2 separate regions of the Homo sapiens genome follow, and region 1 is linked to region 2. Evidence: fine-mapped expression QTL. Tissue or cell type: spinal cord. Region 2 holds a variant in brackets; the other region holds the start of a gene. All regions are shown on one strand. Distances are between the middles of the regions.

Evidence for each region. PIP is the estimated chance that this variant, and not a neighbour inherited with it, causes the effect.
Region 1: CLCA2 starts here. The variant in region 2 is fine-mapped to the expression of CLCA2 in spinal cord (GTEx, PIP above 0.99).

What each region holds. Positions count from the first base shown.
Region 1 is chr1:86,419,191-86,427,301 of GRCh38, reverse strand. CLCA2 (chloride channel accessory 2) reads right to left here and starts at 3,131. Exons shown (of 14, transcript NM_006536.7): 1 at 2,869-3,131; 2 at 1,826-1,963. The coding sequence starts at 3,054.
Region 2 is chr1:87,285,595-87,293,705 of GRCh38, reverse strand. No RefSeq gene overlaps it. Among named protein-coding and RNA genes, the nearest start is that of LMO4, 39 kb to the left of the region's middle. The variant G/A (reference allele first, on the strand shown) is at 3,683.

The DNA.
Region 1 (8,111 bases), 870 kb after region 2:
CATTCCTATGTCTGAAAATTTGTCCTGAGGCCAAAAGGAAAGAGTGCCCTTCATGGAATGGAATACTCAGAGGCTGTTTGGGGTTACTTTATACCTTATAGACCACAGTAATTCAGCTCTTATCTACTTTTCCTAACCCTTTCCCCCTTCCATGATTCCTACCTACATCTCATTGTAGACTTGGAAGGACAGGAACTACCTTGCTGGTCCTTGGGTTCTCTGAAGTGCCTAGCGTGGTCCCGTACATAATGATCATTCACTGTTTGCTTAATTGACATTCTGAGGTTAAAGAATTGGTATCCAACAGATAAATGAACAGCATCCAGGGACGATTGTTTCCTTTGGTCTTTCCGTTCACTCATATTTTCACTTTTGCTTTACTTATTTCTCTCCCCTCCATTAGGATCAAGTGTTACCTATGGCAACCTGGTTTTGGTGTTTGTTGTCTCCAATACTTCTTAGTTCTATTGAAGGCCCAATAGATGCATTAAATCTCTATTGACAGCTAGAGACAACAAAGCTTAGTGCAAAAAGCATGGGTTTTGGAGGCAAATAGACATTCAAATTATGGCTCTGTAATTTACTAGCTGTTAGATTTGGGACAAAGTCCATACCTTATTCAAGCCCCAGTGTTTTAATTTGTGATCACAGAAACTAATTTTAAGTTATGTGAGAATTAAATAATATATGTAAAATGCCTGGCACTTAGTTGGAGCTTAAACACTAACTCTTCCCAGCTTACCCCAGTTCCCCCACCTATCCTATCTTCATGTGCAAGCATTCTCAAATGCTTTCATCTGGTCATAGGTCAAATGCTTTTCACAGGCTCTTTAACTTCTTCAGGACATTGGGGTACCTATCTGGATTGCTATACCATTCAATTTCTGACAGAGTAGCTTTGAAGGAGAGCTAAGAATGAAACAGACTTAGGAAATTTCATACTGAGGGTCAGAAATAAGGAAAGGGGAAAGCTGTACCACATGTTTGAGTCATTCTGTTAGAGATGTAGTTACAATCTCAAACCCACTCCATTGCTGAAACCCTGAGATAAGTTGCCAATGCCTCTACTTCTGGCCCTTCTGGTAGCTGCAATGGACTCTTGTTCACAGTTGACTTCAAACAGTGATTTACCATTTATATTATTTATCATTTATTTATAGTGTGCACACTAGTATGTACCAGACATCATCATGGGTGCTTAATCATGATCTGCAACTTATGAGAGCCTTTCAAGGTGAAGTTCCTCTATAGGTGGAAAAAAAAAGGTAGCCATTCCCCTACTCATCCACATCCCCACATCCTTCCTCCCTTCCTTCTAATCTCCTTATTCCCCTAAAACAATATTCTGGACTTGAGCTAATGTGAAATTCTGATAATCTACACCATGGCATAAGATGGCAGTCATATTTTTATATGCATGGTGGTTTATATTTCTGTCTGGACATGCATGTTTATTGCTCCTGACAGGATGGTAAATGGGTATAGTCATAATTGGAACTGTTCCCTTTGCAGCTCATCCTCAGTAGGATAAAACTAGTTCTTGATCCTCAACCAAACTTTTCAGAAAGTACTCCATAAGTTACAAAATAAAGAGATCTTCTGAGAAACTACTTAGGCTATGGCATTTGACTCATTTTTTACTGCACAATTTGCATTCATTTATTCTCATATATTTTGTTGATAACATTCTGCCCATTAATATTATTTGCATTGTTAATACTGATGATTTGTTTTTACTTAACTTCTCACTTTTATCGTTTGAGCACAGTATATTTTGGTGTTTTTTTTCCCCTTGAGATCATTGAATGAAATCCTGGATTCTTACCTTTTCATATGATTCTTGTTTTATTTTGCTGTTATTATTAGCTTTCCATGTGGCAGGTATTAAAATCTTTATATTTCTGAAAAATACTCTTCTCTTGGTAGCATTAAATAGGTAAAATGAAGCTTCAGTTATCATTTCCTACAGCCAGACAAAAGAAAAACTTACTTTACCACTTGTAAATCCTGTATGTTTTGGTTTTCTGGTATGCTTAAACAGTAATAAAAGACAATGAAATATTTTGAAGAGACCCATTTCTTTTAGAGAAAGCCCTAGACTTTGGGAAAACATAGGAGCAAATTTTTAAAAAAACTTTAAATGATTATATGGAAGATTTTAGGACACTAATTATATGTCTGTGCTTGCCTTCATAGTTTTCCCAATTTTGAGAAAGGCTTTTAAGCTTTTGTGGAACAAATCCTTTTCATGTCACACCTGTGGGCACATTCAAGACCACACCTTATGATGCTACTGATTTCACTAAAGCAATACTAAATGGAGGCTCTTACATCATAGAGCTATGATCCTCCCTTGCCATATTAAAGTAAAAATAGTCAATTATGTTACAGCACATTCAAGTGAAAAGAAATAATTTTGCTTTTTGGCCCACCGTGCAGACTCTCACCCTTTCTGCCTGAGAATTCTCACCCTCAGGATGGAATCTAGCAATATGATTTTAACAAGCATGCTCATTATCATGCTTATTCATCAGTTAAATATTCAATCTTTGTTGCCACAATGGGTTGTTATTTTTCTAAGTTGCTACCCCAAAAACAGTCATGTAGGAAAACAAAAGAGCTGAAATTAGTAGCAACCAACAATAACAAAATAGAGGGCTAGATCAACACTCTGTGAGCTGAGACTACACAGAATTAGATGAACAAACTGGCTTAGTTAGCCATAATCATAACGTTGTGGCGCTATCTTTTAAAAATGCTGTTCTCTGTATTACTCAAATACAAACCAGGCAGGGTAGTTAGCTTCTAAATAAGGCTACAGGTCTGATCAAATGGGATGCTAGTATCAATTTCATAATTTCCACTCACCTTAATGTTTGAGATGAGGTTCTGATTCTCAGGTACCTGAGGATTAATTGCAATGAGCAATCCATTATACCCATTGTCTTGAAGCTGTACTCCAGCTCCCAGGAATGGGAGTTCTGAACTTAAGGCAACCAGGAGAGTCACAAACTTCAGGTTGCAAATAGGACCTGCAATGCTCCTTTGGGTCATGTTGTAGAGAAGCCTCCAGTTCACTCACACTGAGCCTGCTGCATACATTGTGTCAGGTTTTCAATATGGATGCAGATGGTTTCTTCCTGAACTTGCAAGGTTTTAGAACACAAGATGAAGGAGGTGTCTTCTTTGAAAAGTCTGGGGTGGATCCATCTGGGACCTGCCTCTACAAGTCCTTTTCCTCCAGGCAATGCTACACTTGCCTGTTCTGTGGCTGAGCTGCCTCCTGAATCATGGTTGGGCAAGAAACATTCTGCCCTTCATTCATTTTATAACTTTTCAGAAAGAAGAGGGAAATAAGACCAAAGGAGCTTAAAAGCAGGAAATATGGGCTGGAAATCAGTATATCTGGACTGTTCAATCCACTTGCAGTAGAAACACAGAAGTCTATAGTGATTTTCCTCTCCTCATTTTTCATAACCTCCTCCATCAGTTGGCACAAGTACTTTCTACTGCCCTCAAGTCATTTTTCATTTGTTGCAAGATTTCCTTGCCTGTTTATTTTGAAGATTTAGAAATCCATTCTGCAGCCCAGTCCCTACAGCCCTTGGGTCAGATAGTCTGGGCAAGCTCTCAGCTGATGGCTGGAGGTCAGATATCAGATATCCCCCAGAGAGGGCCAACTGCCAGGAACTTGGGTGCCTGTGCAGCCCTTTCCCTCTGGCCTTGCTACCTTTTCTCTCTGCCTCAGGAAGAAGAATAGATTTCTCCTTCAGCTCTCTCCTAAGGGCAAGGCCCTGCTTCAGTCAACCCTCCATTTCTCCAGGACCAAAAACAGGATCTAATATATAGTAACCATCGCAAATATTTTATGACTGATTCATAATACCTGATATTTACCTCATGCTTTAAAGTTTACAAATGAACTCATTTAAATATCAATACTCTGATGCAGGTATAATTTGTACTTTTCAAATGAAAATAATGAGTCTTGGAAATTCTGATTATGAAAATTAGCCAATGAGAGAAGAAACTAACATTTTTTGAGTGATGGATTTTATTATGCCTATTTTATGGGTGACAGAACTAATGTTCAAAAAAATCTAAGTAACTTGTTCAAGGTTGGGAGTATTATCATCGTACTAGAATGAACCAACTGACTCCAAATTCCACTGTTTTTCAATATATCATGTTCTCTCTTAGTTACTAAATTATCTTAGTAACCTCGTTTCTCCCTCTTCTTTGTGTTTAAGAATGCCGCACAGTGACATCTATTGTAAAACTAAAGAAAAAGTTTTATTCACAGCGTCAGAGGTCCACAGCAAGCAAAACCTGTGACTCTTCCCTGCTGTGGCCCCGTCTCGGAACATTTCTGGGGAGGGGAGTGTAGCATTTAGGAAACGGTCTGTCCCTGCTCTCAACAGGGATTTCACCAACATTGTCTGTTTTCAACATCTTCATGGGCAGTGTGATGTCACTCTTCTTCCCAGCAAGGTTGGAGTCTTCTGAACTTGGGCTTTGATATTGCACTGCAATGTTGACAGATGTTGAGGGAATTTTTTTCCCCTTGCTGTCTTGCTTGAATCATTTTCTCATGCTTCTTCTCACCTGCTTTTCCTTCAAATTCCAGCTGTGTCCTGGAAGCCTGGCCTGAGCTCCATAACTAAGTCAAATTCCCTTCTTTCATGCTTCCATAGCATCAGATAACTCACCTTTGCAGTATGATCATGGTAACAATGTCAAATTTATATTGTATAATTGATTGTCAGCTTCCTGCTGTATGAAGGAAGGGATGGAGTCTGTTTTCATTCAGTACTTCCCCAGCACCTATCTCAGTAAACTCTCTGTTGAATGACTGAATGAATGGAGTCAGGAGAAGTAAATAAAACAAGATAGTGAAGGAGCCCCGGGTTATAGTGTAAAAATTCTTTCCCCCACCCTTGTTTTCTAGAAGGCATCTCCTCTGTTCTAGAGCAGTTTCCCTCTTGCTCCCTCTTGACAGGCAGTGCTTGAGTATGGTGCTCTCCTTGAAGAATGGGATGGCGCTGGTCATTACGTGGCTGCCCAAGGGTCTTACCCTAAAGTTCAAAGGTCAGCTTAGCTGCCTTTTCTCCCAAACTGAATTCCCAGCCCTAGTTTTTTTCTGCTTGTTCACTGTGTCTTCAGAGTAGAAGGCCAGAGGTGTGGCAGCTCCAAAGGCTCTGTCTGTAAATGTGACTCATTGAGCAGAACAATGCACTTCATTTCAAATATCCCTGGCAGTTTATTTTCTTATGCCAACCTCTTGTGATTTTAAGAATACAAATATTCCCATCGATAAACCAATATGCTCAAAAACTAAACTCGTAAGCACACTGCAAGAGCGGCTTTTTGCCAACACTCAGGGAAGTTTTTCATGACACTTGTATAGGTTGTTTGCTATGGGAGGGAGTGATTGAGGACTGATATTCAGCACTCTCTCCACTTGTTTTTATCATTACTATGGTTCCCTTGGGATGTGAGGGTGGAAAATATTGGCTAGAGAGTGCATGCAACTTTATAAAGAACAGCTACAAATGAACAATTTTGTCCAGCTTCACTTGGGTTGAAACCTGAACAAGCTCACTCAGGCTTTGCTTAGCCCGGGTTGAGAGTCTAGGCATGATATCTACTCTTATCTATCTGATTTTTTTTAAACGTCTAATTCAGAGCCCTTTTTGTTATCAGCAACCAGGCCTGGGACCGGGCCAGCTGAAGGTCTCTTTTTACTGCCTTCTTCTTTCATCAGGCTGACCTTACAGCCTGAAAAGGTGGAGAAAATGAAATTGAGTAAAGGAATTAGAAATTATACTGAGCACAGCATCTTTTTGTGAAGTGTGACTTCGTCAATAAAGTGAACTTTTTATCCTTTCATTAAACAAAAATTAACTGGTCATAGCCATAGATTTTAGATTTTATAATATCTGAGAAAGGAAATATACCTAAAGGAAAAGAAAGGAGGAATACAGTTTTTAAGTGTTTATTTCAATGTTATATAAACTCTAGGAATCTGCTTTGCTTTTATTCTGCTTTCAAGAAAATAAGAGTTATTCAATTTCAGTAACTGAAGAATCTAAAGCACATCTTTGTTCATTGTCTGACTCTGTAGTTCAACCTGGCCCCAGAAGGGCCTGTCTATTTTTTTCATGGAGTCAGCTGGTATAGACCCACAGTCTAAGTGAATAAAACATCCAATTGGTGTCAGAGAAGTCAGGAGATTTGACATTTTGGGGAAATCAAAGAAAATTTTGGATTAGTTCCTCTCAGGCTTTGGTTTCAACAATCCCATTTAGAAGAGGAAAGTGTAGTACACTGTACGGTTGGGCTACACAGCTCATGGGCCACGTTAGTTTATGTAATCCCTGTGAAATAAATCAGAAAAGAAGAGAGACAAATTGTCAAGACTAAGAATTTAAACAAAACACAGTTTGCCAAGGGCCCAGATGGTACATTTCCTACCTCCTTTATCCAATTTCCTTCAAATTTAGACTCATTTTCAAAGCAAAGGAACAAAGTGGATGGTCCAGATAGGGTCTGGGAAGCCATTTGTATTGTCAAATCACCACCATGTCAAAGCATGGAGATCAAGCGCAAAGGTGAAACACAATGAAACATAAACTCAGAATTGAGCATGTCAGGATAAGCCAGTTGGTTTCAGAGATAGCTGCTTGAGAACCTGATGGTGAAAAGATTCCAAAGTTGAACAAAACAGAGACTGTCTCACATTGCAGAAGGAGGCACTGAGTTTGGATATTGTAAAGACACTCTCGGCAATAAAGGCTTATGGGCACCGGTCATTATTAGAAACAATCTCTCATGTTTGTATGGTGCTTTGCACTTTTCAAAGCCCTTCTTAATCATACTGTATCTCATGAGTCACAGGAACTTATAAATTCTGCTTCTGTGGAAATTAAAGAATAGTAAGAGTAGTTATCTTCTTAAAGGACCATTTAGGTGAGATCTGTCTTGGACACAAGGTTAAGATTTAGCTCACAGGTTCTCTAAAATTTATTCCATGCATATCAGTAGAGTGTACTGTGGAATGTAAAGAATGGGAGATACTGGTTTTATTCACTTGCTATAGGATCCAAGTCACATCACCTAAACTCTTGTGGCTTGGTTTTGTCACCTTCAAAATAAGGGGGTTGATCTACTTAATGGTAGTATTTTTCCTCACTTTCCTCATTCAATTCACTTTGGCAATAACTCAACAAATTATCCTGTGTGCACACAAACACACCGAAACCCTCCAAAATTTGCCAAAATGAATGAAAAACAAGAAATACTTTTAATGATAACCCAATTAAAAATGGGAGAAAGTGTATGGAACATTTATCATTTGCAAAACAGCCTAAACTTGCCTTTCGTAAAAGACTGTTATATCTACTATATACCAGAGAGTATATAGCATCATGTGGATATAAGATATTATCATTATTACTACTGTTACTTTTGAGAGAAAAAAAAAAGAGAAAGCAGAAGTGTAGGCAATTTATTAAAGAGATGAAAAATAACCAGGGAGACTCAGAACAGTACACAGAAGTAGAAGAACAAGATTTCGACTCTGTTCTTCCCTAGTTTCCCCTTGATTGCTTCCTGCTCTGACAGTGGCCTCCGTATGTTTCTGAGACCCCAGGGATTTGCCAGATTCTCCTCTTGCTCGCAACCCCACTGGGAAGGAGTAGCACGTATTTTTTGTTCTCCTTCCTCTACTTCTGCTGCTTCTAATACTCCATTTCACATTACCTGCCCTGTGAAGAACAGGAAGCAACTATAACCAGTTTTTCAACTGGCAACTGGGGGATTAGGGCTCCCCCTTCTGTTCTTGGGGTGCAGGTATCTGGGGCTATGAATCTCTAAATAAATTCTCAGCAACAGAATGGGCCTGCACAGACCTCCCTTCTAAAATGTACCAAAAGCTGTCCAGAACAGTGTTTTTCAAGTTTTATTATACCCAAGAATCACCTATTCAAATGCAGATTCTGACTCAGTGGGTCAAGATGAGACCAATATTCTACATGTCTATTAAACTTCCATTATGCTCCCTTACATTTCCAATACAAATGTAAATTAATTTGTGACTGATGCAGCCTTTA
Region 2 (8,111 bases):
TTTAATTAGGTACATATTTCACAGCTCTCGAGCTACTCCAGTGAAGGGCTGCCTTTATCTCTTTTATTTACAGTAACAAGCTATCAAACACACACCACCATAATTAAACTTGGATATAAAAAACTTGTTTTATTAATGGCAGCCTATTCTGGCCTTGGATTTCTGAAACCTGCACTAGGCAGATATTTTTATTAATTAAATAAATATTATTCAATTAAACTGAAAAGATGGGGTGACGTGAGAGGGGCGAAGAGCTCGGTTTAAAAGTGAGATTCTCTTTTTTCTTCCTTGCTGATGGTTTCCTCTGTCTCACCTTCAGCAGGGGAACAAACATCTCTTCATCAGATATTTTAGTGATGAGAAAAGTGATTAAAATCCAGAACATTTTTAAATTATTAATAAGGAATTTAAATGATGTTATAAAAAAGGAAATACAAGAGAAAATGTTACACATTCATAGAATTTTGGCTCATGCATAATAAACAGTAGAAAACACTTTACTTATAATACTATCCAAATTAAAGAGGCAAGAAGCCCCCTGCTTTAGCCGTGGGTAGTAGCGTCAATAAATGACAAATGGCGCCATCTGCTGGTACTCCGATTAAACACTTAATTCAGAGCACAATTGTCAGAGCAATCAGTTCTTGGGTTGTCAAAACAAAAAAGTGATAAAACTCTGTGCCTCCTGATATTTTCATATGGTTAGACAAGGTATAACTCTGTAAGAAAGACAAAGTTAGACCTTAACATCCAGAGGCTTCAGGCAAGACACTGCAGGGAGATCTCTAGCCTTCCTGGTCTCTTGAGCTCTCTTTGAGCTCTCCTTGAGGTATATGCAGAAGGATCACAGCCAGGTCCTTAAAAGACAACATGCGTGCAAAAAAAAAATAATAATAATAATAAATTTTAAAAACCCTGCAAATCACACACTCATTTGAGGGGCTGCCCTTGAGCCCTGAATTCCTGGGTTGCCGTACCACAGAGCACACAGGACTCTAGGAAGCTACCTTGTGCTGTTTCTCGCAGATTCTGTGACACCATAACCGCCATTCCCTAGTCCTTCTCTGGAATGGCTTTTCTTCACTTCCCCTCCCACCTTTCTCTTAGTTGTTTGTGTCTCTGGTGCATGAATAAGAGATTCCTCACTCTTTAGACCTCTCGGGGGCTGGTGTGAAACCAATGAAATAACATTATTTTAATATAAATGATCATATTGATTGACTGAACCCATTTACACAACTCATTGAACAAAAATATATGTGCAATAACTTTAAATAACATCTTTTAAAATTCAAATCCTCAAAAAGAAAAAAACTTTATCCATTATCCCACCTTCTTCAAAGAGTCTCTTTAAGCCTGACCAACGAAGTCAGTCCTTCTGAGGCCACCAGCGCTCACAAATTGAAAATCTGCACTTTCAGACACCACAGTCACTGGGACCTTTCTTCCTGGCCACATTTTGGCATAAAATATGAAATTAGATCATTTTTAAGATTCCTTTATTGTTGTTATAATATTTTTCATAAGTAACAGATGACAGAAAAAATAATTTACATTTTTATAGGATATTATTTGGAGGTTATTGGAATAAAAATATTAACAAAATCTGAGTAAACTTGTATTGCTTCTGCCCTTTCTGTGAGGTAGGACTGAGCTAGGCTTTTCCAATGGGACCTCCATGAGCACACAAGGAGGGGTAACTCCAGCTATAGGCTGCATGATATGTGGATGATAATGTGGGTTACTCACATTGTGTGTGTGTGTGTGTGTGTGTGTGTGTGTGTGTGTGTGTGTATGAATTACTCCAAGTCCCAAGTCCACCTGTTCAGGCTTATATCTCCTATGAAAATAGAAAACAGCATAGGAAAAACTTCCTGCTAGGGAGAATCTCCTACCCTTGAAATCCTCCTTATTGTGGGCAAATAGTCCCTTTCAGTTCCACAGTTTTCCTGCCAGGGTACTGCCTTCCTGAATGGCCCTCTGCCTTGAATAGGGGTCCATACCTACAGGCCACTGGTGGCCCACTGTTTGGCAGCACAGGCTCCATCCCCAGCCCTCAGGTCTCTGCTTTTCTCAGCCCACCCTTTCAGAGTCACAGATCATTCACCGACCCCGGGACTCCAATCCTCAATCAGCAAGATTCCTATACCCATTTTCTGTCTCCCCTATGCCTCCTTGCTGCTTACTGACCCCTCATGCCGCCCTTAATTTTAACTTTTATAGGAGCAAGAGGCTGACTTAAGATCTAGCCCCTGCCCAGACACTTCAAGGTGGCCCTCCCTCTTCTCAAACTCAAAAGAATGAACAGAAATGTGGTCACTGGACATCCCTGATATGAAAGGAATGGAAAAGAAAGAGGCTGGGATGCATTGAATGCCTGTGGTGTGTCAGGCTCTGGATTAGAGCTTTATTAATGACTCAGTGAAGCCTCACAACAATCTTACATAAATGGGATACCATCTGCATTTTATAGATTTGGAGACTGAGACTCAGAGAGGTGGAGAGACTTGCCAAACATCTCCCAAGCACTACAGGGCAGAGGTGGAGTCTGACTTCATGGCACTGCACTACCTCCCCAAGGCAAGGTTGAGCAAAAACTGCTTCTCACCTGGCACCTGCTTAGAGACCTCTGAGGTGCCCTGTCCAGCCTCACTTGAATGGCCTCACCATTGCTTTTGACAGGGTTGAACACTGCCTCCTTGTAACATTCCGTGCCTCCTTCCTAACTCTCTGCCTCTTCCTTCTTTATCTCTTGGGTGGACTCCTCTTTCATCAAAAAACAGTTTCGTTGAACACCGATGTCGTAGAGTTCCCTTCTGTCCCTGCTCTTCTCTACAGACTCACTCAGAGTTGTCTAATTTACCCCCATGGCTCTAAAGGCCAGACAACACCTCTCAGACCTTCATCTCTAGCTCTGATCTTTCATCTGATCTTCTAACTCATTTACGCAAATTTCTGCTAAGCATCTCGATTTGAGCATCCCCCAGGCACCTCAAACTTAACGTGTTCAGAATAGTTCATTTTTCCATCAAACTACACCTCCCTACATATTGCTTATCTTAGCCAATGTCATCACCAACCCCAGACCTCCAGGCCAGAAAGATGGGATCATTTTGCTATTTCTTGAGTGCCCAGCCCAATCAGCCACACAGTTCTGGGCCTCCCATTTCCTAAATATGCATTAAACCCCATCCCCTTCTCCCTGTCCCTGCTGGCACTGTCCCACTTGATATCACAGCCATCTCTGCCTCTGTCTATTGTAATAGCTTCCTAACTGTATCTCTGCTTCCAGATTTGCTTTCTCAAATCTTCTCTTCCCAGAATCATCAATATATCTTTTAAAAATGCAAATCTTTATGTATCAATCTGTGTTTTTCAGGACTCTTGACTGCTAGTGTCAGAAACTAATTTCAAACTGACATATGCAAAAGAGAAAATGTATTGGTTCTTGTAACTTGGAAAGTAGACCCAGGTGTTCAGATGAAGACAGTAGTCCATCTATCTTCAACTCTCACTCTGCTGTCCTCTGGGTTTAAAGTTGGTTTATTCTCAGGAAGGCTCTCCTTGTAGTGACAAGATGGTGATTAGCAGCTCCAGGTGTAAATTCTAGCTGCTTAGCAACCTCAGCAGAGAGAATGCTGTTCTCAAGCGTTCCAATATAGTACCAAAGTGGTTCTAATAC[G/A]GTCCATCTTGGCTCACATGTTAGCCTCTGAGCCAATCACTGTGGCCCAGAGGATGAAATATTGATGGTTCAGGTGCATAGTACATGTCCACCACCCCTGTACTTCACTGATCCACAATATCACAATATCCAAAAGGTGGGAGCAACGCAAATGTTCATCAATGGATGAATGGAGAAACAAAATGTGGTGTATACATTATTCAGCCTTAAAAAGGAAGAAAATTCTGATCCATGCTACAACATGAATGACCCTTGAAACATTACGCTAAGTGAAATAAGCCAGGACAAGTATTGTATGATTTCCCTTTTATATGGTCCATAGAATAGTCAAATTCATTGAGAAAGAAAGTAGAAGAGTGGTTACCAGGAGCTGGGGGAGAGGTGAATGGAAAGTTATCGTTTGAGGTCTACAGAGTTTCAGTTTGTGATGATGGAAGTGTTCTGGAGATGGATAGTGGCAATGTTGCACAACAATATGGATGTATTTAATGCCACTGAATTTACACTTAATAAAGGTTAAAATGGTAAATTTTATGAATGTATTTTATTATAATTTTAAAAACCTTTCAATAGCTCCCCATCAATTTCTGGATCAAGTCTGAGCTCCCAAGCATGCTGCACAAAGTCCTTTTTCATCCAACCCCACTCACTTTTCCAGCTTGTGCTGCCCTTCGTACCTCACCCTGAAAGCGCACTGTCCAGCAGATCTTTCTGTAATGATGGGGAAAATGTGCTGCATCCGTTCTGTCCTATTTAGAAGCCACTAGCTCTATGTGGCCACTGGTCACTTGAAATGTGGCTAGTATGACTAAGGAACTGAATTTTAAATCTTAGTTAATTTAAATGTCAATACCCACGTGTGATTAGTGGTTACTCTATTAGACAGCAGAGTTCTAAAACATAGCGTTGTATCAGGTTACTTTATAATCATGTGCCTTTGCTAATTCTCTTCTTTTGTCTTTGGTGTCCTCCCCTCCCCTTTTTATTCCCAAACTCTCAACTATTCAAGAAAACCTCAGGAAGATGAGGCTGGGAAGGACTCCCGGACACTTCGCGTCGTGATAATCTCTCTCATCCTGGTTTTCTTTCAAGCATTCATTTATTCATTCCTACAGCTCCTTGCTAGGCACTGGAGATGGAAAGATAAATCCAGCTGTTACTATAGAGCTCACAGCCAATTCCTCTTCCAACAATCCAATCACTCCTATGCTACCCATTAGCCAGGTCCTAACTTCCTTTTCTTATAAGGACACTAGTAATATTGGTTTAGGGCCCAGCCTAATGACCTCAATTTCTCTTAACTACCTCGTTAAATACCCTGTTTCTAAATACAATTACATTCTGAAGTATTAGAAGTTAGGATTTCAACATCGGAATTTTTTTTTTTTTTTTGAGACGGGGTCTGTGTCGCCCAGACTAGAGTGCAATAGCATGATCTCTCTCCTCACTGCAACCTCTGCCTCCTGGGTTCAAGCAATTCTCCTGCCTCAGCCTCTCTAGTAGCTGGGATTACAGGTGCATACCACCACACCTGGCTGTTTTGTATTTTAGTAAAGACATAGTTTCACCATGTTGGCCAGGCTGGTCTGGACCTCTTGACCTCAGATGATCCACCCACCTCGGCCTCCCAAAGTGTCGGGATTACAGGCGTGAGCCACCGTGCCTGGCCAACATATGAATTTTAAGGGAGACACAATTTAGCCCATAGCAGCACTCTGCTTTAAGGACTAATACAATTCTTCCTTGCCCAAAGTCCATAGCGACCTTACATGCACAAATTTAACCTCACGTCAGGGAATACCAGCACACTATTCTAACTAAATCTTTCTCAAAAAATCTCTTCTGCTCTTCCTTCAAAAGCACAGCAAAAGACTCATTCAATTTAAATAACTAAGTAGAACATCGCATTATCTGCCAAGAGATTTCAAATGTCCTCAGGGCTTACTGAAAGGATAATGGGTGGAACTTGCCTTACATTTGTACAAAAGAACCAATCTTAGAAGAAGTCAGAGAATCAAACAGCTAGCAAACAACATCCAACTACCCATGGCTGCATCTTTACAAACATTTTAATGATAATAATATAACACACACAAAAAAAACCCCTTCTCTAAAACTAGCCAGAAGATTCTGGTGTATTTTCTTTCTTTCTTTCTTTCTTTTTTTTTTTTTTTTTTGAGATGGAGTCTTGCTCTTGTCACCCAGGCTGGAGTGTGGTGGCGCGATCTTGGCTCACTTCAACCTCCGCCTCCCGGGTTCAAGTGATTCTCCTGCCACAGCCTCCCAAGTAGCTGGGATTACAGGCGCCTGCCACCACGCCCAGCTAATTTTTTGTGTATTTTTAGTAGAGACGGGGTTTCACCATGTTGGCCAGGCTGGTCTCAAACTCCTGACCTCAGGTGATCCACCCACCTCGGCCTCCCAAAGTGCTGGGATTACAGGCGTGAGCCACCGCGCCCGGCTTATTTTCTTTTTAAAAATCAATGTCATTCCTTGGAGTCATCCCTTACTCATATGTACACACTTGCAAGAATACACATGCCCTATGCATACTGTGTTAGGACAAAGTTCTTCAGGGAGTAGCAGAAAACTCAAGACTGTGAAGCTTACACAAGGTAGAAATTTTTTTCTATCTCAAGTAAAATACAGTCACAACATTCAGGGTTTCAATGGAGGGCCACAGGGTCAGGGACCAAGTCCTTATCTTAGTGCACCACTATGTGGCTTCCATTCCTAAGGTCATCTTCTTTTCCACCATGACTACTCCAGTTCTAGCTTCAATCCTACATTTCAGCAAACAAGTGAGAAGAAAAGAAAGAATTTGTACGTGTGACCCTTGCTCACATCCCATTGGCTAGAACTTAATCACATGGTCACACCTAGCTGCAAGGGACTTTGGGAAATGTAGTCTTATTTATGACAGCTATATAGTCTGCTAAAAACTAGAGAGTGGTCATAAAAGGAAGGAGCATCAAAATAAATTGAAGTAGTATTGGATTATAACCCAAAGTATAAAACAAATATCTATGAGACCGGCTGATATAAATAAATGATTGCATAAGTAAATAGAGGGGAATAGACAAATCTCCTATGCAGAAAAATTCCAAACACTGTAATTTATTTACATATTCTACCCTTAAGGAGAGGAAGCATAATTCTCCACTTTTTTTTTTTTAAGATGAAGTCTCACTCTGTCGCCCAGCCTGGAGTGCAGTGGTGCGATCTAGGCTTACTGCAAGCTCTGCCTCCTGGGTTTACTTATGCCATTCTCCTGCCTCAGCCTCCCGAGTAGCTGGGACTACAGGCAACAGCCACCACGCCCGGCTAATTTTTTGGATTTTTAGTAGAAACGGGGTTTCACCGTGTTAGCCAGGATGATCTCAATCTCCTGACCTCGTGATATGCCCGCCTCGGCCTCCCAAAGTGCTGGGATTACAGGCATGAGCCACCACACCCGGCCAATTCTCCACTTTTAAGTGTGGGCTACATGTAGTGACTTTCTTCCAAAAGTACAGTTTGGAAAAGGAGGAAAAAAAATAAGAAACTTTACAGTGGAGAAACCTGACAAATACTACCTGAAGCCAGGTAATCAAGGTTAACATCAACAGTGATAAATCATGTTGATAGTATGTACCCTTGATATAATATGGTTAGAATGGCATTTTACCTCTGTGGTCCTCTTCCCCAAAACATATTACTTCAGTCTTATTATAAAAAAACATCAAACAAATCCCAGTTGAGGGTCATTTTACAAAATACCTGACCAGTCGGTATTCCTCACAACTGTCAAGGTCATCAAAAACAAGGAAAGTCTGAGAAACTGTCACAGCCAAGAGTAGTCTAAGGAGACCTGACTAATAAATGTCATGTGGCATGTTGGATGCGATCCTGGAACAACAGCAGCAACAACAAAGGACATTAGGGAAAAACTGAGGAAAACAGAACAAAGCATGGACTTCAGTTAATAAGAATGTATCAATACTGGATACTGGTTTATTAACATTATTATTATTATATTATTTTGAGACAGAGTTTCGCTGTTGTTGCCCAGACTGGAGGGCAATGGTGCCATCTCGGATCACTGCAAATTCTGCCTCCCGAGTTCAAGCGATTCTCCTGCCTCAGCCTCCCAAGTAGCTGGGATTACAGGCATGCACCACCAAGCCCAGCTAATTTTGTATTTTTAGTAGAGACAGGGTTTTCCCATGTTGGTCAGCCTGGTCTCGAACTCCTGACCTCAGGTGATCCACCTGCCTCGGCCTCCCAAAGTGCTGGGATTACAGGCGTGAGCCACTGCACCCGGCCCTGGATACTGGTTTATTAATAGCGACAAATGTGCTGTACCAATATAAGGTATTCATATGGGAAGCTTGGCATGGGATATATGGGAACCTTTTGTACTATCCTTTCAATAATTCTGTAAATCTAA